Homo sapiens: one gene and its partners. The protein of the gene in region 1 purifies or fractionates together with the protein of each later gene. This does not show direct contact. Each region holds a gene or a part of one and is shown on either strand. Other genes may lie near its edges.

Evidence for each region. The genes of interacting proteins can lie anywhere in the genome.
Region 2: the proteins of NR1D2 (region 1) and USP48 purify together in Homo sapiens (affinity purification with mass spectrometry; 3 studies listed by BioGRID and IntAct, with this or other methods). This does not show direct contact.
Region 3: the proteins of NR1D2 (region 1) and ZNF703 purify together in Homo sapiens (affinity purification with mass spectrometry; 2 studies listed by BioGRID and IntAct, with this or other methods). This does not show direct contact.

The regions. Positions count from the first base shown.
Region 1 is NC_000003.12:23,976,281-23,981,142, forward strand, and holds the end of NR1D2 (nuclear receptor subfamily 1 group D member 2), read left to right. Parts: intron 1-942; coding exon 943-1,139; 3' UTR 1,140-4,337; downstream 4,338-4,862. UniProt on the Homo sapiens protein: Transcriptional repressor which coordinates circadian rhythm and metabolic pathways in a heme-dependent manner.
Region 2 is NC_000001.11:21,752,134-21,759,163, reverse strand, and holds part of USP48 (ubiquitin carboxyl-terminal hydrolase 48), read left to right. Parts: intron 1-1,380; coding exon 1,381-1,501; intron 1,502-2,459; coding exon of another isoform or gene 2,460-2,461; coding exon 2,462-2,618; intron 2,619-6,044; coding exon 6,045-6,172; intron 6,173-6,512; coding exon 6,513-6,637; intron 6,638-7,030.
Region 3 is NC_000008.11:37,690,970-37,698,797, forward strand, and holds the start of ZNF703 (zinc finger protein 703), read left to right. Parts: upstream 1-4,812; 5' UTR 4,813-5,010; coding exon 5,011-5,253; intron 5,254-6,175; coding exon 6,176-7,705; 3' UTR 7,706-7,828. UniProt on the Homo sapiens protein: Transcriptional corepressor which does not bind directly to DNA and may regulate transcription through recruitment of histone deacetylases to gene promoters. Regulates cell adhesion, migration and proliferation.

The DNA of each region.
Region 1 (4,862 bases):
GTCCCAAAATTCAGGGGCTTACAAATGCAAACATTTATTTAATCTCACAGTTTTTGAGGGTTAAGATATGATATGAGAGATAGGATATGATATGTGCCTCTGACTCAGGGTTTCTTAGGAGGTTATAGTTAAGCTGTGGACAGGGCTGTGGTCTCATATGAAGGCTTGAGTAGGGAAGGATCTGCTTTCAGTTGTATGTAGTTATCGGCAAGATTGAGTTCCTTGCAAGCTGTTGGACTGAGCACCTCAGTTGCTTGCTGACTGTTGGCTAGAGCCCACTCTTAGTTCCTTGCCATGTGGGCCTCTCCACAGGGTGGCTCACAGCATGGCAGCAGCTTTTCTCAGAGTAAGTGAGCAAGAGCGTACCTAAGATGGAGGCCACAGTTTCTTGTAAGCTAATCTCAGAACGGACATCCTATCAATTCTGCCATATTTTTTTTCATTAGAAGTTAGTAAGTCTAGGTCCACTTAGTAGGAGGAGGTTGCGCAAGGGTGCGAATACCAGGATGAAGGGATCATTGGAGGCCATTTTAGGGGCTGCCTACCACACATGGTGACATACAAATGGGAGTGTATTCCATATGTATTGAAAATATGTTTATATACTACATTATTTTATTTTGCTAATTAGAAGCAGTTGAAATCAGATGACATCTAATTTTAAAAAGTCAGAACCTCTATGTTCTTGTGAATAAAAATTCTTAACAGTAAAGAATTTTGATTGATCAAATGTTTTATGTGATATATATGCTTTATAATATAGTAACTAGCTAACGATTTGTTACTGAGATTTTGAGAAATTTGTCAACTTTTGCCTTTATTCAGATGTATAAAACCTTGCTTTCTATTCGTTAGTGACACTGATAAGCAAGAATTTTATTTATATTTAATGTTAATAATTTATCCTGTTTTTCCTATTTCCCTATTCCTGATCTCTCTTAGATCGATCTGGAATAGAAAACGTCAACTCTGTGGAGGCTTTGCAGGAAACTCTCATTCGTGCACTAAGGACCTTAATAATGAAAAACCATCCAAATGAGGCCTCTATTTTTACAAAACTGCTTCTAAAGTTGCCAGATCTTCGATCTTTAAACAACATGCACTCTGAGGAGCTCTTGGCCTTTAAAGTTCACCCTTAAGGCCTTTGTTTATTTAAACATGAACTGATGGTAACTGTACATTTTGTGCTAAAATGCATATTTATATGTGTATACCATATGTGGAGATAGAAAAGACCTTTAAGACAATAAAAGATTGTAGGCTATCTCTGTAATCATGCAATAGCTGTTCGGATTGAGAACTCTTCAGCCATGATTAGACGTTGACTGCATCTCCCTGATAGACCAATCAGCTGTGTCGCACTTAAACTGGAGAAGTTACACTGAAGTATAATCACACTGAATGTTAGACTTTTTCATCTGCCAAAACCAAAAACCATTTTGATCTCCCTGTGGTTATCAATATAACGCACAATCACAAGTGTATGAGGACTTAGAAATTAATCCTTTGTGGTAGGAGTTCTGTTGAATGATGGAAATCTTATTACTACCACAAGACTATTTGATCTGGTAATTGGAGACTTCGGGATTTAGGAGATCTCCATGTCTGTATTTACTCTACCACTGCTAAAGTGTGTGGTCCTGGGTAGTTTACTTGCTTGCGGAAAATGAGAATTGATGGTGTCCCCAATGCCCCACCTCACAGAGTTACTAAAAAATGTCTGTAAAGCATATTTACCTCTTGGGAGATAGGCACTATGTAAATAAGGTAAAATTTCTGTTATTACAATTATTCATAATAATATTCTTTTCTTATTTCTAAGCCTTTCTGGGAAATCATTTCAGTCCACACCAACCATATTATTCAGGGTTCCTGCCATATGTGTGGGGTATCCTACTGATACACACGTATTCAAAGTTTATGGGTACAACAAAGACATAGTACATGTACATAATATGTATGTGAATATAGTTAAATATATTTCTTCACAATATTTTAAACTGTGAAGAACTTTATCATACAGGAAACTTAAAACAAGAGGTGTCAAAAGACCCAAATTAGGTGCATTTTACTTGTTTATGATGGCATAACCATTGCTTTAAAATGTTTAGACAGTAGAATATTGAATTTATGCTCTATTTTTGTTTATTTAAGCAACACTTAATGTAAAAGTGCAACAGGCAATTGAATCCAAATTTCAACGACAAAAAAAAAAAACATGTATTTTAGAGTTCATCTTTGGCAAAATCTTTGGTTCAGGGTACTAGTTGTTTAAAAGTTGATTCATATTCTTACCTTGTGCTGAGAAAGGTTGCATTGCTGCCCCTTATACACATGCTGCAGCTTGATGTTAAAGAATTTTTATTCTTTCTGAAGAACTAATTAATGTTTAAAGCAACTGTTTAATATGATGGCATGTGTGTGTGTGCGTGCGTGTGTATGTTCTGAGTCCACTTCTTTTTTCCTAAATAACACTACAGGGATTTTGTCATATTAGATTTAATTTATAATTTGAAAAATCATCTAGTGTGTGACCTACAGGCTTAGAAATGGTATAGTCAAAGACATTTTATCCACATTTCTAATAGTGGACTTGATTAAGTAGATAAGATCAGCATCTGTTTATGGTAGTAGGAGAAATAGCCAAAGTTGAGGATTTTATGTATGTTTTCCTGTTTACCTGGAAAATAGCAATTAATTGGATTTTTTGGTAAAGATTGCCTTCTGTATAATGTTTGGATTATATAAAATTGCAAAAATGATAACAGCCCGCTTTACTGTACTAAGCCTGTTACTTTCATGACGTGTGAGCAGAATGCCTTATTTTGTAATCTTGTTTAACTTGTTGCTACTGGGACTTGATTTACTGTGGCACTAGTTAAGTAAGTTAAAAAAAAGTTAAACCCTCTCATTATTAAAGAGGAAAGGCGATGGTGATGTCTGTAGTACAATATAAACCATAATTGTGATTTACCTTAAGTAGGTATAACTCTTATGGGATATACAGTATAGTTTTTGTGAATCTTTACATGATAGCATTATCTTTTTATAATTTTTTTTCCTAAGATAAACAAATGCATAGTTTTCTTCTATGGGTGATAGAAACAGCTTTTTGAAGTAATGAAAACCTCAAAAGATCATGTTGATTCTTAATTTTTGCCTTTTGCATAAGCCTCTTTATAACATGTATCTTTAAAACAATTAAGTCTTTAGGAATGTGTAACCAGAACTATGTTAGTATTGCTTATAAAACTTTAGTTAGGTTCAATATATACATATATACATCTCTATATAGGTATATAGATTTGCATTTTGTCTTGTAAAATTTTATTTGAATAAATTCTTCCTGTAGGTAATGGGAAACAAAATTAATAGTTCATATGTCACTCATAGCATTTCTATATTTGAAAGTAGCCCAATATAAAACTTTTGATTCTAAAATTAAACCAGCAGCCTATTACAAGCACATTCTTTGATTGAGTCATTGGTTATAAACTTACTAAATGCAGAGAAAGCAGCCAATTTAGGAAACTTCTGAGTTGGTGGGACACTGTTGATTAATAATGTACTGTATGAATTAAGTGATGCTTTAACTTTGATTTTACATTTTAAAGTTAAAATGTGGGCATTATGTCAGCAAACTTAAGGGCATTATGTCAGCAAGCTAAAACATTTTTTTTCCTGTGCTTTTAATGTATCTCTTTACATGATCTGAGAGAGGATTCAAGTTGATAGAAATAGCTGAGGGGAAAAGGGGGAACATCTTGGGATGAAGCTTGTCCTTATGGTGATGGTTTAATTACAGATTAAAAAATTAGAAGGAAATTTCAGTGGATTAAGTGTATAGCTTTCATATCTACATTTCAAGAAATTACCATTGTAACTTGATAAGAGATGATTTATTTTATGTAAACATCTTTGCAAAGCAAGGTGTAGCAGCTCAGCTAGATTTATTACTGTGCACGAAAGTAAATACCTATCTCAATTATTCTTTTTCTTTTCCAATATAAAGTTTGCTGAATGTACAAGAAGAGTTTATCACTTAGGATATAGAATTTTTTTAGGGGTTGGGGGAGGGGATCTGTTAGGAAACTGTTACCTATAAACAAAGATTGACTGGATTCGATCCAAAAGATAAAACTTGAAGCTATTCTGGAACTAACATGGAAAAATGAAATGGCTATTGTTTAAAAAAATGATAGAAATACATTGTTGATGGGATATGAGTTAAGTTTATTTTCTACAAACTGTAATTGATGAGGACATGGATAATATCTTCATGTTTCTGAGAAGTAATCTGTATGTGGGGGGAGGGGATAATAAATATTTCTAACCAACTGTGGTGTTTGGTGTCTAATCTACCTTGCCTTTTTTGTAAAACTAATAATTTAACTCACTACAAGTATCTTTCCCCTGAGCATAGCAGGATGTTTTATGTAAATCTCTGATTCAGCATGGGGAAATGTGTGTATATGTATATATGTGTGTGTGTGTATATACACACATATATATGTATATGTGTATATATGTATGTGTATATATATATATGTATATATACATGCACACACACACACAGGGCTTAAAAAAAGATTTTAGAGTTGAGATTCTGGCAAGGACTGTTGCTATTTTCTATAATGCCAACTGAGTAATGGTTCGTTGTGTCTAATAAGGTAGTCTTTCTAGGTAGGAGATGTGAGAGAGGAATGGGGTACTTGATATAACCAGAAATCACCCTTGGCCATGAATGGAGTGCACCTCAGCAAGACCACTAGCTTCTTTTTCTTTTCCTATCAGTTGTTCCCATGTTGGCAAAATTAAGATAGCTACTTAAATCTCCATTGTTTGCAGTAATATTGTTAGGC
Region 2 (7,030 bases), on another chromosome or scaffold:
GTTGCCCAGGCTGGAGTGCAGTGGCACGATCTTGGCTCACTGCAACCTCCGCCTCCTGGGTTCAAGCAATTCTCCTGCATCAGCCTCCAGTCTTCAGCCTGTAGCTGGAGTTACAAACGTGTACCACCACACCTGGCTAATTTTTGTATTTCTAGTAGAGACAGGGTTTCACCATGTTGGCCAGGCTGGTCTCAAAACTCCTAACCTCAAGTGATCCTCCTGCCTTGGCCTCCCAAAGGGCTAGGATTACAGGCGTGAACCACCACGCCTAGCCAGTTGATTTATTTTTGTTTGTGTGCATGCGTGAAGTAGTGTGAGAAACAGTCACATGGTCCCAAATTGTTCATTATATGAAAAGGTACATTTCCTTTTCATTCATTCATTCATTCATTCATTCATTCATTCATTTTTTCCAAGACAGAGTCTTGCTCTGTCGCCCAGGCCAGAGTGCAGTGGTGTAATCTCGGCTCCCTGCAACCTCCGTGTCCTGGGTTCAAGGGATTCTTCTGCCACAACCTCCCAAGTAGCTGGGATTACAGGCCCGCACCGCCACGCCCGGCTAATTTTTGTATTTTTAGTAGAGACAGGGTTTCAGGCTGGTCTCGAACTCCTGACCTTGTTATCCGCCTGCCTCAGCCTCCCAAAGTGCTGGGATTGCAGGTGTGAGCCACTGTGTCCGGCCGAAAAGGTGTATTTTCTTTTAACCTTATTCCCACTCATGCTCTGTAGGTAACCAATTTCATTAGTCTCTTGTTTTTCCTTTCTGTATTTCTTTTTGTACAAAATGAGCAGAAATATGTACATGTATATTTTCCTTATATATTTCTTACACATAACAGTATACTAGAGATACTCCTTTGCATTTTGCTTTTTTTACTTAATAATGTGTCCTGGATTTATAAATTACCTTATATCTGTTCATAGATATCTTTTTCATGCTGTGTGTGTGTGTGTGTGTGTGTGTGTGTGTGTGTGTGTTTTACAGTTGCATAGTACTCTGCCATATAGATGTACCATATTGTCTATTTTTGGGCATTTGGGTGGCTTCCAATATTTTGCAATTAACAGACAGTGCTGTAATGAATAACCTTATGAGTGAGATTTTGCATTGTTGGAGGTATAGCCTAAGGAACAGTAAATCCTCAGAAATGAGATTGCTAGGTCTAAAGGTAGTTGTCTATGTAGTTTTGTTAGTGACTGCATTTCTACCAGCAGTATATGCATGCTTTCTTCTCCACACCCTCACAAACTGAGTGTCTTATACTTTCTCAGTTTTGCTAATTTATAGATGAGAAGTGGTATCTCATTTTAGTTTTAATTTGTTTGTCTCTCATGAAACTATGGTCTTTTAAAAATTAAAGGTTTTTTTTTTCCCCTTAGACGAAACTGCAAAGGAAATCCGAATTGCTTGGTTGGTATTGGTGAGCATATTTGGTTAGGAGAAATAGATGAAAATAGTTTTCATAACATCGATGATCCCAACTGTGAGAGGAGAAAAAAGGTAAACCATCATTTTTTAAGCGATTGCTATATGCTGTTTTTTGTTTTTGTTTTTGCTTTTGTTTTGGGCCTGTGATCAGAAAACTCTACTGATTTCAGGTAACCTGTGCAGCTTTAAGATAAGCAGTAGAACTTAAGACTCTAAGCCACTTGAATTGGAACACTTCTTAATGATATGCTTTAAAACAGGCAGCTGCGTAATTCAGTAAGCCTTTAAATAATAGTTTTAGTTTGAATGCTGATTCTATGTTTGCTTTAACATTGCATGTTTTATTTTGAAATCTTAACGCCTCTTTAAAGGAGATGGTAATTCAAGGGAACAAACTCATGATGATAGCACTTTGCTTTCTAGGGCTTGTATTTTATATATAATTTTGCTTTTTAAAAATATACATTAAATTTTCTAGACATAAATCTTAGCATTCACGAAATATCCAAGTTTGTTATATATAGATATTTTAATAAAATAATAATTCTTTGTAAGGTCAGGAATTCCCAACCTTATCTTTGGAAAAAGTTGCAGCCAGTTCCCTCTACCACCGCCAATCTTTAAAATCTCTAGAATATAAAGGAAGTTTTCTGCATAAGTTTTACTTTGTCATTCTGCTGAATGCTGGCAGTTTAGAAATACAGAAAACATAAAACCTATATACGCTTGTTCAAAACCGATCTTTTCTAGAATCCACTGTTCTAATTTTAGATTTAAGTGGCTGGAGAAGACGATATGCTAGAGATGAGCAGTGATGCCGTCCGAAGTCTTTTTCACTCCTGTGGTCAACCCAAAATGGGGCTTTCATGAAAATTATGCCCCACCTCCAGCCAAGAGAAACTTAAGGTGGCTATACCATGTTGGTTGTGACGGTCTTACACATTTTTAATCTGAAAATTTAAGAATAATGCTTAGAAATTGGTTGTTTAAAGGAAAATGGGTTTTATAATTATGAATTTTGTATTTTTGTAGAACTCATTTGTGGGCCTGACTAACCTTGGAGCCACTTGTTATGTCAACACATTTCTTCAAGTGTGGTTTCTCAACTTGGAGCTTCGGCAGGCACTCTACTTATGTCCAAGCACTTGTAGTGACTACATGCTGGGAGACGGCATCCAAGAAGAAAAAGGTGGGTGGAAAGGGGTGGGGGAGAGCTCTCTTCCTGAACATTTTTTTAAACTTTTTTTTTTTTTTTTTTTTGAGTCTTCCTCTGTTTCCCAAGCCAGAGTGAAGTGGCGCCATCTCGGTTCACTGCAACGTCTGCCTCCTGGGCTGAAGCGATTCTCCTGCCTCAGCCTCTTGAGAAGCTGGGATTACAGGCGCCCGCCACCACGCCTGGCTAGTTTTTGTATTTTTAGTAGAGACAGCGTTTCACTATGTTGGCCAGGCTAGTCTCGAACTCCTGACCTCAAGTGATGTGGCTGCCTCGGCCTTCCAAAGTGCTGCGACTACAGGTGTGAGCCACTGTGTCTAGCCTAAACTTATTTTATTATTATTATTATTATTTTTTTAAGACAGTTTCACACTTGTTGCCCACGCTCTAGTGCAATGGCACAATCTCGGTTCACCACAACCTCCGCCTCTCAGGTTCAAGCAATTCTCCTGCCTCAGCCTCCCGAGTAGCTGGGATTACAGGCGTGCACCACCACGCCCGGCTAATTTTGTATTTTTAGTAGAGACGGGGTTTCTCCATGTTGGTCAGGCTGGTCTTGAACTCCCGACCTCAGGTGATCCACCCGCCTCGGCTTCCCAGAGTGCTGGGATTACAGGTGTGAGCCACTGTGCCTGGCCTAAACTTATTTTTTTTATAGAGACAGTGTCTTGCTCTGTTGCCCAGGCTGGTCTTGAACTTCTGGCCTTAAGCAGTCCTCCTGTCTCGGTCTCCAAAAGTGCTGGATTACAGGCATGAACCATGGTGCCAGGCCTTGAATAGCTTTTACCAGCCTGCAAAACCTTTGCACCCCAAGGAGTAATATTTTATCTTTATTTTACAGATGGTATATTGACTTGCTGAAAGCCACAATTGGTAGTAAGGATACAAATATTCAGAGTCTGATTAGAAGACAGAAGCTACACAATAATTTGAACAGAAAAGGTTTTTTTTTATTGTTTGTTTGTTTTTTGAGACAAGATCTCACTTTTTCGCCCAGGCTGGTGCGAGCACAGCTCACTGTAGCCTCAACCTCCCAGGCTCAAGCAATCCTCCTGCCAGAGCCCCCCCGAGTAGTTGGAACTACAGGCATGCACCACCACCTCTTGCTAATTTTTGTGTTTTTTTTGGAGACAGCATTTTACCATGTTGCCCAGGCTGGTCTCAAACTCCTGGGTTCAATCGATCCACCTTCCTTGGTCTCCCAGAGTGCTGGGATTACAGGCATGAGCCACAGCACCTGGCCTTGAATAGCTTTTACTGGCCTGCAATGCTTTTGCAGGCCAAGGAGTAATATTTTATCTTTATTTTGAAGATGATATATTGACTTGCTGAAAGCCACAGTTGGTAGTAAGGAGATAAATATAGTCCAGTTAGAAGACAGAAGCTACAGAATAATTTGAAAAGGGAAAGTTGAGAATTAATAACAGAATTAATTAGAGAAATGAGGAATTGATTAATAAGAGTTAAAGATTAAAGAGGATTTTAAAGAATACAAGGACAGCAGATACAGGGAACAACCTGTATCCCTGGGGCTGAAAGAGAACATCCAACGGATAGTCTGTCACCCCCATGGCCCAGGCTTGAGATCCAGACCTCTTTGGACACTGCTGGGATGCACTGGGTGGCTGAAAAGGTGCTGAGATGCCTCCCTGGGAATCCCTACTAGAAACTGTCCATGAGAAGGTGCTGGGCCCTGGAACCCCCTACAGAGTCACCTGAGAGAGTGTCCGGGAGGCCATTCACAGGGTGGTCATTCGAGAGGAAATGCCTCACTGGAGGCACTGTACTGTGAAGCTATCAGAAGAGGTGCTGGGTAAGCTGCTGACTACTGTTAGGGGCAGGAACCTGGAGCCCTGGAGGAAGCTGATCTGCAGCAGGCTGGTGACAGAGGCACAACCAAACCCTGCAGTGCCCTTCACTGAGAAGCCTTACCTTCTTGATAACTGGCAAAGGAGAAGTATTTGCAGAGCCCATCTCTCATCACTGAGCAGGCAAAGAAGGGTAGATTTGGAGCTGAGAAGCAATAAGTTAATAACTTAAAGAAGATAAGACTTCTGTCTTCTGGGCTCTCAATATCCATGCTTTCTGCTTCCATTCCCTGCACTAGCTCATTAAAACTTTCAACTCTAAAATTCTACGGTTTTGTATTCTTCACTTAAGTGTGAATTGCTGTGCTTGAGATCCCAAGTCCACATTAACTGGACTTTAAAAAATCATGACTAGACACTGTAGTCATGATTGCTGTTGTTGCTTTAATACAGGTAGGCTCTTGCCTTTGGGGAGTGTATATGGACAGTCCTGGCTGCCTCATGACTTCCACAAAACATGGTTGCTAATTCTATTTCTTTTTTTTTTTCCTCCCAGATGGAGTCTCACTCTGTTGCCCAGGCTGGAGTGCAGTGGCACAATCTTGGCTAACTACAACCTCCGCCTGTCGGGTTCAAGTGATTCTCCTGCCTCAGCCTCCCGAGTAGCTGGGATTACAGGCGTGTACTACCATGCCCCACTAATTTTTGTATTTTTAATAGAGACGGGGTTTCGCCATGTTGGCCAGGCTGGTCTGGAACTCCCGACCTTGTGATCCGCCAGCCATGGCCTCCCAAAGTGCTGGGATTACAGGCGTGAACCACTGCTTCCAGCCTTGAGCCACTGCGCCAGCCCTGTCTTTTAAAGTTTTTTTTTTTTTTTTTTTTTTTTTAAAGAGTCTCGCTCTGTCATCCAGGCTGGAGTGCAGTGGCATGATCTCTGCTCACCACAACCTCCACCTCCTGGGTTCAAGCTATCCTTGAACCCCAGCCTCCCAAGTAGCAGGGATTACAGGTGCTCGCCACCACACCCAGCTACTTTTTGTATTTTTAGTAGAGACAGGGTTTTACCATGTTGGCCAGGCTGGTCTTGAACTCCTGACCTCAGATTATTCGCCCGCCTCTGCCTCCCAAAGTGCGGGGATTACGAGTGTGAGCCACCGTGCCCAGCCTTGTTTTTTGTTTTTGAGAGTCTCACTTTGTTGGCGATCTCACCTCACTGCAGCCTCTTCCTCCCGCGCTCAATAGATGCTCGTGTCTCAGCCTCCCAAGTAGCTGGGATTACATGTGTGCACCACCACACCCGGCTAATATTTGTATTTTTTTTAGTGGAGACGGGGTTTCTCCATATTGGCCAGGCTTGTCTCAAGCTTCTGATCTCAAGTGATCTGCCTGCTTTGGCCTCCCAAAGTGCTGGGGTTACAGGCATGAGCCACCGTGCTCAGCCTATTTCTTTTAAAGTTTTAAAATGATAATAAAGTATTAATCTAGTTTGGATGTAGAGATGTTTATGTTCTCATGTGAAGAGGAAGTACCATTTTTTGGAAAGAAAAGTAGCACCTTAAAAAACCCCAAATCTATATTTTTGTTTTAATAGATTATGAGCCTCAAACAATTTGTGAGCATCTCCAGTACTTGTTTGCCTTGTTGCAAAACAGTAATAGGCGATACATTGATCCATCAGGATTTGTTAAAGCCTTGGGCCTGGACACTGGACAACAGCAGGTAAGAACTGAATTTTTTTTTTTTTTTAAATATTCAGAGGTACCCAAACATCCTAAGCATGTTTATAAAGGGAGATGAAGTAGAATGCTTTTTAAAAATTAAATTTTTTCTATTTTGAATGAAAACCTTTATTTACTGTCCAATAGTTTACACATTATACTTGATTCCATTTATGGAAATTCATATGGGGGCACAAACTGATTGAACATAGCTGTAGCCCCTGTTTGAAAATGCTAAGTTGAAAGTATAGGTAGTTTCTGGAATGTTGAATGTATTACTATTTGTAGTAGAAGTTGAAAAGCAAGATATGATTTTTCTTTTCATTAACCTAAACTTGTAGGATGCTCAAGAATTTTCAAAGCTCTTTATGTCTCTATTGGAAGATACTTTGTCTAAACAAAAGAATCCAGATGTGCGCAATATTGTTCAACAGCAGTTCTGTGGAGAATATGCCTATGTAACTGTGTAAGTCTGTTTCAACTTTTTCATGGTACATTTTATTCTAAGACAGTTGCTCATATGTTAACTATTTTTCAGTGCAGTTCCAGGTTGTAGCTTTAGTGGTTTATCATGGGACCTGAAATATTTATAGTAATACATTTCCATGGGAACATATAAACAAGTGAGTTGGTAATTGCAGTTGCACCCATCCAGGTGTTAGGAACGGTGTCTGGGTGAGCTCTTGCAGTCTGCTCTTGCTTTATGGCTGTGTGGTGTGAGCTAAAGAGTAAGATTGGAACTGGCTAGAATACTAAAAGTAAATGTAAAATGCCTGTTAAAAAAATGTGCATGAGTACAATATACAACATTTGGGTGATGGTTACATTAAAACCTAGACTTCACCACAGTGCGATATAT
Region 3 (7,828 bases), on another chromosome or scaffold:
CCTGGGCAACAGAGCAAGACTCTGTCTCAAAAAAACAATGCATTTGGGAAAAGGTACTTTAACATGTTTATACAATCAACATTTTGAAAAATACAATCATCCGTGTTAAACCTTTTGGGAATACAGTGAGGTGTGATATAAATAAATAGCCCTATTTTTGTAAAATTCTTCGTTCATCAGAAACATTCACTGGGTACTAACTGCACTGAGACTGCCTGGACCTGGATTTGACACTCCAGGCTCACCTCCTACCAGCTTGGGCCTTGGGCAAGTTACTTAACCTTTCTGTGCCTGTGAAATGGAAGTAACCATAGGACCCATCTCCTAAGGTTTCTGCAAGGATTAAATGAGAGAATGCACGCAAAGTGCTTAGAACAGCGTTTGGCACTCAACGTTGGCTACTGTGGTGATGGTGAACCGCTCTGTTAGGCAATAAGTACACAAAGAGGATGAGGAAAACAAGAAGCATTCACAGTCCAGTGGGAGATCAGACAAGGAAGCAAATAGTGGCAGATGCCATGTGATAGGTGTAATAATAGAACATAATACCAACTGTGAGAATGTAGAAGAGGGAGCCTCTTGAGTCATCGGTGGGGCGGGCTTCCTGCAGGGCTGGCTGTCCTGGTCTTAGCCTGCTTGCTCCCACTGTTCCCTGGTGCCCCTCTCGTGCCCCAGGCTGTGTCTGAAGCCGGGGGATGGGGCAGACAGAGGAAGCGCCTTCAAGTGCCCTGAGTGCAGTGTGCTAAATCAGGGCTCCCGGCCAAAGCAGTAATTGCCAGCCGCTGAAAGATATTAAGCGCCAGGGAGGAAAACCAAGTTCTCTATGAGGCAGACTTTTCAGAGTTCTTACAGCTTGTAAAAAAAAAAAAAATGTAAATAGTTACCCAGTGAGATATTATTTCATGTTGTTGCCATTAGGGTTTGAGTGTTATGCAGAGAGAGGAGAGAGAGGCGATCATTCAGGCAATTCTGCCTCGGCAAGGACTGAAAACTACACATTAACCCCACACAACAAATCTACCCCCTCTAGGTCTTAACCTGACTCGAGCATTTTTTCCTGGGTGGTGAATTTTATGTAAATTGAAGTAGTGAAAAAATAATCTATACATATTCACAGTTTCTTAAAGGATTTTCTTGATGGCTTCTAGGGAGGGATGGGCTATTTTTTTTTTTTTTTAAGACACATTGCGGGCTGGGCACGGTGGCTCATGCCTGTAATTCCAGCACTTTCGGAGGCTGAGGCCGGCAGATCACTTGAGGTCAGGAGTTCAAGACCAGCCTGGCCAACATGGAGAAACCCCATCTCTACTAAAAATACAAAAATTAGCTAGGCATCATAGCACACGCCTGTAATCCCAGCTACTCGGGAGGCTGAGGCAGGAGAATCGCTTGAACCCGAGAGGCAGAGGTTGCAGTGAGCCGAGATCATGCCACTGCACTCCAGCCTGGGCAAGACAGCAAGACTCCGTCTCAAAAAAAAAAAAAGACACATTGAACTGGAGGCTGGGGAAGGGTTACTTTCATTTCTGTAGAATTCAGAGACAACCTGGGCTCTTCTGCTTGGGTTCCCAGGGCTAAATCTGGTGCTGATGTGGCTGCTCCCCTGAGCAATTGCTCCTCAGACACAAATGATGCAATCGGTTACAGCCATCATTTACCTTCAACTTTCTTTGTGCCAAGCATGAAACAGGTGACATGCATTGTCTGCTTCTGGTCTCCCAACTCTGAAGTGGCCACGCTTCCATTTTACCCTGGAGGAAACCAAAGCTTAGGGAGGTTCACTTGCCCGGGGTCCCCACAGCAGCCTGGTTCTGGGCCTGACTCTCTTCAGCTTGAACTGAGAATGATAGCAACACCTGATGTTTATTAAGCGCCTGACATACCGAACTGTCATTCTTCACCACAGTGTCATGGGGGCACTCTCAGGCAGCCCTCTCCCCTGTCCCATTTTAATGGTGGCCGCTCATTCCCAGGGCCATCTGAGGAGGACCTGGACAGTGGAAGGCCCCTGAGCCACGCATCTGCCACTTTTTTGCAGAGGGAGAACCTGTGTCATATGTCCTGAACAGGGATGTCTTACTCGGGCCTTCCAACCACATCGCCCTCCATAAACACAGCCCATCTGAATACAGAGCCACATTCCCTCCCAGGTGACAAGCCATTCCTCTGAAAACTACACTTGCCTTCAGGCCCCGAGGGCCCCATTTAGTGCTCTGTATAGGTTAGCATTTTAGCTAAGTGAATGGTGAATCCCAATTGTAATAATCATCTAGCAGTGTTTTAATTAGGCCTCTGGCCTGGCTATGCATGGTTTTTCATTTTCCCTCCTAAGACGTTTGGATGGATCCAGCCAAAGAAACCCTGCTGCCCTGACCAGCAGCTCAAAGTGTGTCCCTCCCGCCTTGCATGCTTTCAGAGGTGTGTCCTACCACTTCCCAGGAGGTGGGAGCAGGCCAATCTGTGTGCCCGTCAGTAATTACCACTGGGAGCTCAGGGAGTGAGGTGTTTTTAACAGGACAGTATAGTATTACCTAGGCAAATCCCCCATCACATCCTGCCAGTCTGTCCTTACCTCCTCTTCTCTCCCTTCCTTTCCTTCATTCACTACCTTTTTCCTTCTCTTTTCCTCTCCAAACAGAGAGTGAATATTCTATTGTCCTCTCTCTTCTCCCCTCTCTCCTTTCAGCTGCCTCCTGCTCTGTTTTCCAAATTCCTAAATACCTCTTCCCTCTCCCCTCCCCTTTTCCTCCTGACTTATTTCCCATTAATCATTTCTAACACACATCTGCTCAGGCCCTAGAAGGATCCCTTGGCTCCCTCTCACAGCTGGGCTGGTTACAATAATCAGGGAGACTTTCATCTTTCATAGCCTCCTAGGTCTCCCCTCTGCCCAGCTCCTCCTCCTCTGCGTTCCTGCAAAGGCCAGCCTCTCTGCACCCTGGCTTCCTTCTGCCCTTCCCGCTCTACACAGCAGTCTCCCGAAGGCAAAATGGCTTGTGGGTGGACACAGCCCTGCAGTGGACTTTTACAGGTGGTGTTTGCAGTGATGGCAATGGCTGCCCGCACAGAAGTCGGCATGAGAAGCCTGCCACGATGAAATAAATGAGATCACTCCCTCCCTTTTCATTCCCGCACCCCTCTTGCTGCAATGTGGGATCCATCTCACAGTCAGGGTACCCCTTTCCATTCGGCGTAACATGATTTTACCAAGATTAAAATTGGGGAACATGTAATTACAGCTTGTGTAATTTCTAAGCATTCTATAAGTGCTGCCCAAAATACAGTATGGATCCAGGGAGTGCACTTAGTTTTGGGTATGACTGATACTGCCTGGAAGTGGGGTCTGCTGTCTTCTACTACTGGGCAAGATACAGATTCGTGATAGCTATTTCTTTCTGTTTGAAGAGCTCCTTTGAAATCACCTCTCCCCATCTTGGGTTCTCAGGTCATCTCAAGGCGTCGGTCAGCGCGGCAGAGTCGGGAACCTGCCATCCTAGAGCAATACGCCCCGAGTGACAGCCCTGACAACCGGAGTGATGGATCGGGACTGGAAAAGTGGTGCTGGGAGCCAGGCAGTGACACCAGCGCGCCTCCACTGGCCGCCGAGCGCACGGAGAAGTGGGCTCCCCAGAGTTCGGCACCCAAAGGACCAACTTCGCCTCCGGAAAAGCGGCGGATCCGGAACTTGGATGTCAGGACTATGACTACGTAAAATCTCTGCCCAGGGCGAAGCTAGCAATGCACACTGTATCAGAAAGGCGCAGGGAGTCGGGAAGGGTATTGTTATTTTTAATTAAAAGTTTTTATCCCGAAATTTGCCTGGGGAAAGCAAGTGCTTTTTCCCCCGGAGTGAGAAGGATGGGGGGGCGGAGGGGTTGTGTTGCCGAGCAGCGCTTAGAGAGAGATCCCCCTCCAGGGACACCCGCCTCGCCCGTGATCTCGGTCTCTCCTCGTAGCAGCTGGGCGCGGTACAGTGAGGAACTTCACGCCCCTCAGCAGGACACGGTAAGAAGCCTGTAACACACCAGACACCGAGCCTCTAACGCAGGGCGCAGGCACAGCGCGCACAGCCTGGGGTCCCGCGCTTGGTCGCCGACCATGTCACTCCAGAAGGGAGACAAACTTGCAGGCTTCAGACAAGACGGGCTCAAAGTAGTTGGAGCTGCCTACGCCGCGTCCCGAGAACAGTGGGTGCCTCCGAGGCTCGGGCGCTTCCAAGTGAACACACCAAGGGGAGGCCAAGTAGGGGAAGGAGAGCGGGGCCGAGGAGAGCCGGAGCAGCTCTGGAGAAGGACCCGGGCTCCCGAGGCGAGGCCTGCCCCCAGGCGGCCTCTGGGAGAGGCTTGAACTCCAGCGTCCCAGAGCCCGCGCCGTGCGATCCCTCCCACCCCACCCCACCCCACCCCACCCCACCTCGGACACACACGGCGGGCGGGGTTACAGCCCCCGCCAGCATCACCCCCCACCCACCCAGTGGTGAGAAGGGAGAGAGGAGAGAGAGCGGCCGGAAAGGAGGACGGGGCGCAGAGCTCAGGGTCCCGGAGAAGTCCCGTCCCAGGCGGGGGACCCCAGGGCGAGGAAGGCCCAGTCGGGGGGAGGGGAGGAATCCCGGGAGCGGCCGAGACCGAGGCAGCGGCGGCGCGCGGCGCGGCCCCTTTAAGGCTCTCCCCGCCCACCGATGGAGCCGGCCTCAGCCCGCCGCTCTCCCCGCCCCGGGGTCCCGGCGAGAGCTGCGATTGGGCGGGCGCGGCGATCCCTTTGAAGTGTGGCTGCCGATCGCGGCTATTTGACGTGCGGCTCGAGGAAGGCGAAGGTTTTTGTGTTGCTAGCCGGGGCCAGCGGCGGTGGCGGCGGCGGCGGAGGCGTCGGTGGAGGAGGGGAGGCGGCGAGGAGGCGCAGCTCCCGCTGCACCGCGATCGACGCTGCGGAGCGAGCCCACCCGCCCCGGGAGCTCGCCTCCCCGGTGCTCCCCCGCCCTCCCCGCCCCCCCAGCGGCGCTGCCTCCTCCAAATGAGCGATTCGCCCGCTGGATCTAACCCAAGGACACCCGAAAGCAGCGGCAGCGGCAGCGGCGGCGGCGGGAAGAGGCCGGCGGTGCCGGCAGCGGTGTCCCTCTTGCCACCGGCGGACCCCCTGCGCCAGGCGAACCGGCTCCCGATCAGGGTCCTGAAGATGCTGAGCGCTCACACCGGTCACCTCCTGCACCCGGAGTACCTGCAGCCGCTGTCCTCCACTCCCGTCAGCCCCATTGAGGTCAGTCCCCGGCCGCTGCCCCCGGGCGCCGGCCCCATTCCTCCCACCGCGACCGGGACCCTGACCCAGCTCCCAGCGCCCCGGGGCTCGGTGCGACACCCAAGTCTGGTCACGCTGGCGGGCTGAGTGAGGAGGGGAAGAAAACCGAGGGATCAGAGCCCACCAGGGCTTCCCCAGGCTTCCCCGTGGAAGGGTCTCCTTCCACGCTCGCCCTTCGGAGCTCCGTGTTTTCTCTCGGATTGGATTTGCTCCTGGAGTCCCCTCTGGGTCCTTTACTTTTCCTCTGATCCCCAGTTTCCAGCCAGGAGTTGGTCTCTGCTGGGTCTTCCCCGCCCCCCACGCCGGGCTGTTTTCTTTGAAGCCCTGGCTGCCCGGGTCCCACTTCGCCTCTGTCCCATCCGGTGAGGGCGCACGGCGCCCTGGCGCTCCCGATCCCGGATCTTTCTTCCTGCCTCTTCCCTGGGTGCCCTCCCCGGGAGGGAGGGGCTACGGAGAGAGCGCCAACTGCAGCCCCTCCTTTAGAATCCGCGCTCCCCTCTCCTACCCCGCGGCGCCATCGCCAGAAACCCGTCCCAAGCGAAGTTCCCCCAAACTAAAGGAATAAGTTTTTTCCTGGGCCTGGAGGAGGGGGACATTAGAGGGAAGTGGCGAGTCACAGCCCCGACTCCAGAGACGTCACCTTCTCCCGCAGGGGTCCTGGGTGAACTCCTTCCGCAGGGCCTGCGGCGCACCCCGGGACCCAGCGGCAGTGTGGGCGCAGTTCCGCCAGCTGCCGCGCCCGGCCCGGCCCTCGCTCGCAGACCCTCTCCCCAGGCCCGCCCCGCCCCGTGGCGCCGCCGCCCAGCTCCCCGGGCGCCCCCGCTCGCCCCGCAGGCCTCTGAGTCTCACTCCTTCTCCCTCCCCCTGCTTCTGTCTCCCACAGCTGGACGCCAAGAAGAGCCCCTTGGCGCTGCTGGCTCAGACCTGCTCGCAGATCGGCAAGCCGGACCCGCCGCCCTCCTCCAAACTCAACTCGGTGGCGGCGGCGGCCAACGGGCTGGGAGCGGAGAAGGACCCCGGCCGCTCAGCCCCGGGCGCCGCCTCCGCAGCCGCGGCCCTGAAGCAGCTGGGGGACTCACCGGCCGAGGACAAGTCCAGCTTCAAGCCCTACTCCAAGGGCTCCGGCGGCGGCGACTCCCGCAAAGACAGCGGCTCCTCCTCGGTGTCTTCCACCTCCTCCTCGTCCTCCTCGTCCCCGGGAGACAAGGCGGGCTTCAGGGTCCCCAGCGCCGCCTGCCCGCCCTTTCCCCCGCATGGAGCGCCGGTCTCCGCATCCTCGTCCTCGTCGTCGCCCGGCGGCTCCCGCGGCGGCTCCCCGCACCACTCTGACTGCAAGAACGGCGGCGGGGTTGGCGGCGGGGAGCTGGACAAGAAAGACCAGGAGCCCAAGCCCAGCCCGGAGCCGGCAGCCGTGAGCCGCGGCGGCGGTGGGGAGCCCGGGGCGCACGGTGGCGCCGAGTCCGGGGCCTCCGGGCGCAAGTCCGAGCCGCCCTCGGCGCTGGTGGGGGCCGGCCACGTGGCGCCGGTGTCTCCCTACAAGCCGGGCCACTCGGTGTTCCCGCTGCCGCCCTCCAGCATTGGCTACCACGGCTCCATCGTGGGCGCCTACGCCGGCTACCCGTCTCAGTTCGTGCCTGGCCTGGATCCTAGCAAGTCCGGCCTCGTGGGAGGCCAGCTGTCTGGGGGCCTGGGCCTGCCGCCGGGCAAGCCCCCCAGCTCCAGCCCGCTCACCGGGGCCTCCCCGCCCTCCTTCCTGCAGGGATTATGCCGCGACCCCTATTGCTTGGGAGGTTACCACGGCGCCTCGCACCTCGGCGGCTCCAGCTGCTCCACCTGCAGCGCGCACGACCCTGCCGGGCCCAGCCTGAAGGCGGGGGGCTACCCGCTGGTGTACCCCGGGCACCCGCTGCAGCCCGCCGCGCTCTCGTCCAGCGCCGCCCAGGCCGCGCTCCCCGGCCACCCGCTCTACACCTACGGCTTCATGCTGCAGAACGAACCGCTGCCGCACAGCTGCAACTGGGTGGCAGCCAGTGGGCCGTGCGACAAGCGCTTCGCCACCTCGGAGGAGCTGCTCAGCCACCTACGGACCCACACGGCCCTGCCGGGAGCCGAGAAACTTCTGGCCGCCTACCCCGGGGCCTCGGGCCTGGGCAGCGCCGCCGCCGCCGCCGCCGCCGCCGCCTCCTGCCATCTGCACCTCCCCCCGCCCGCCGCCCCCGGCAGCCCCGGGTCGCTGTCCTTGCGGAATCCACACACTTTGGGCCTAAGCCGGTACCACCCCTATGGCAAGAGCCACTTATCCACAGCGGGGGGCCTGGCCGTGCCGTCCCTCCCCACAGCCGGACCCTACTATTCGCCATACGCGCTGTATGGACAGAGACTAGCTTCAGCCTCGGCGCTGGGATACCAGTAACTACAGCTCTTCCTCCACCCCAGCCCCCTCACCCTCCTCCCTCTCCCTCCTCCTCCCTCCCCACCTGCCGTCGCCGCTGCAACCTCCACTACTGCTTGACCCTGCCGGGATTCCCCACCCAGC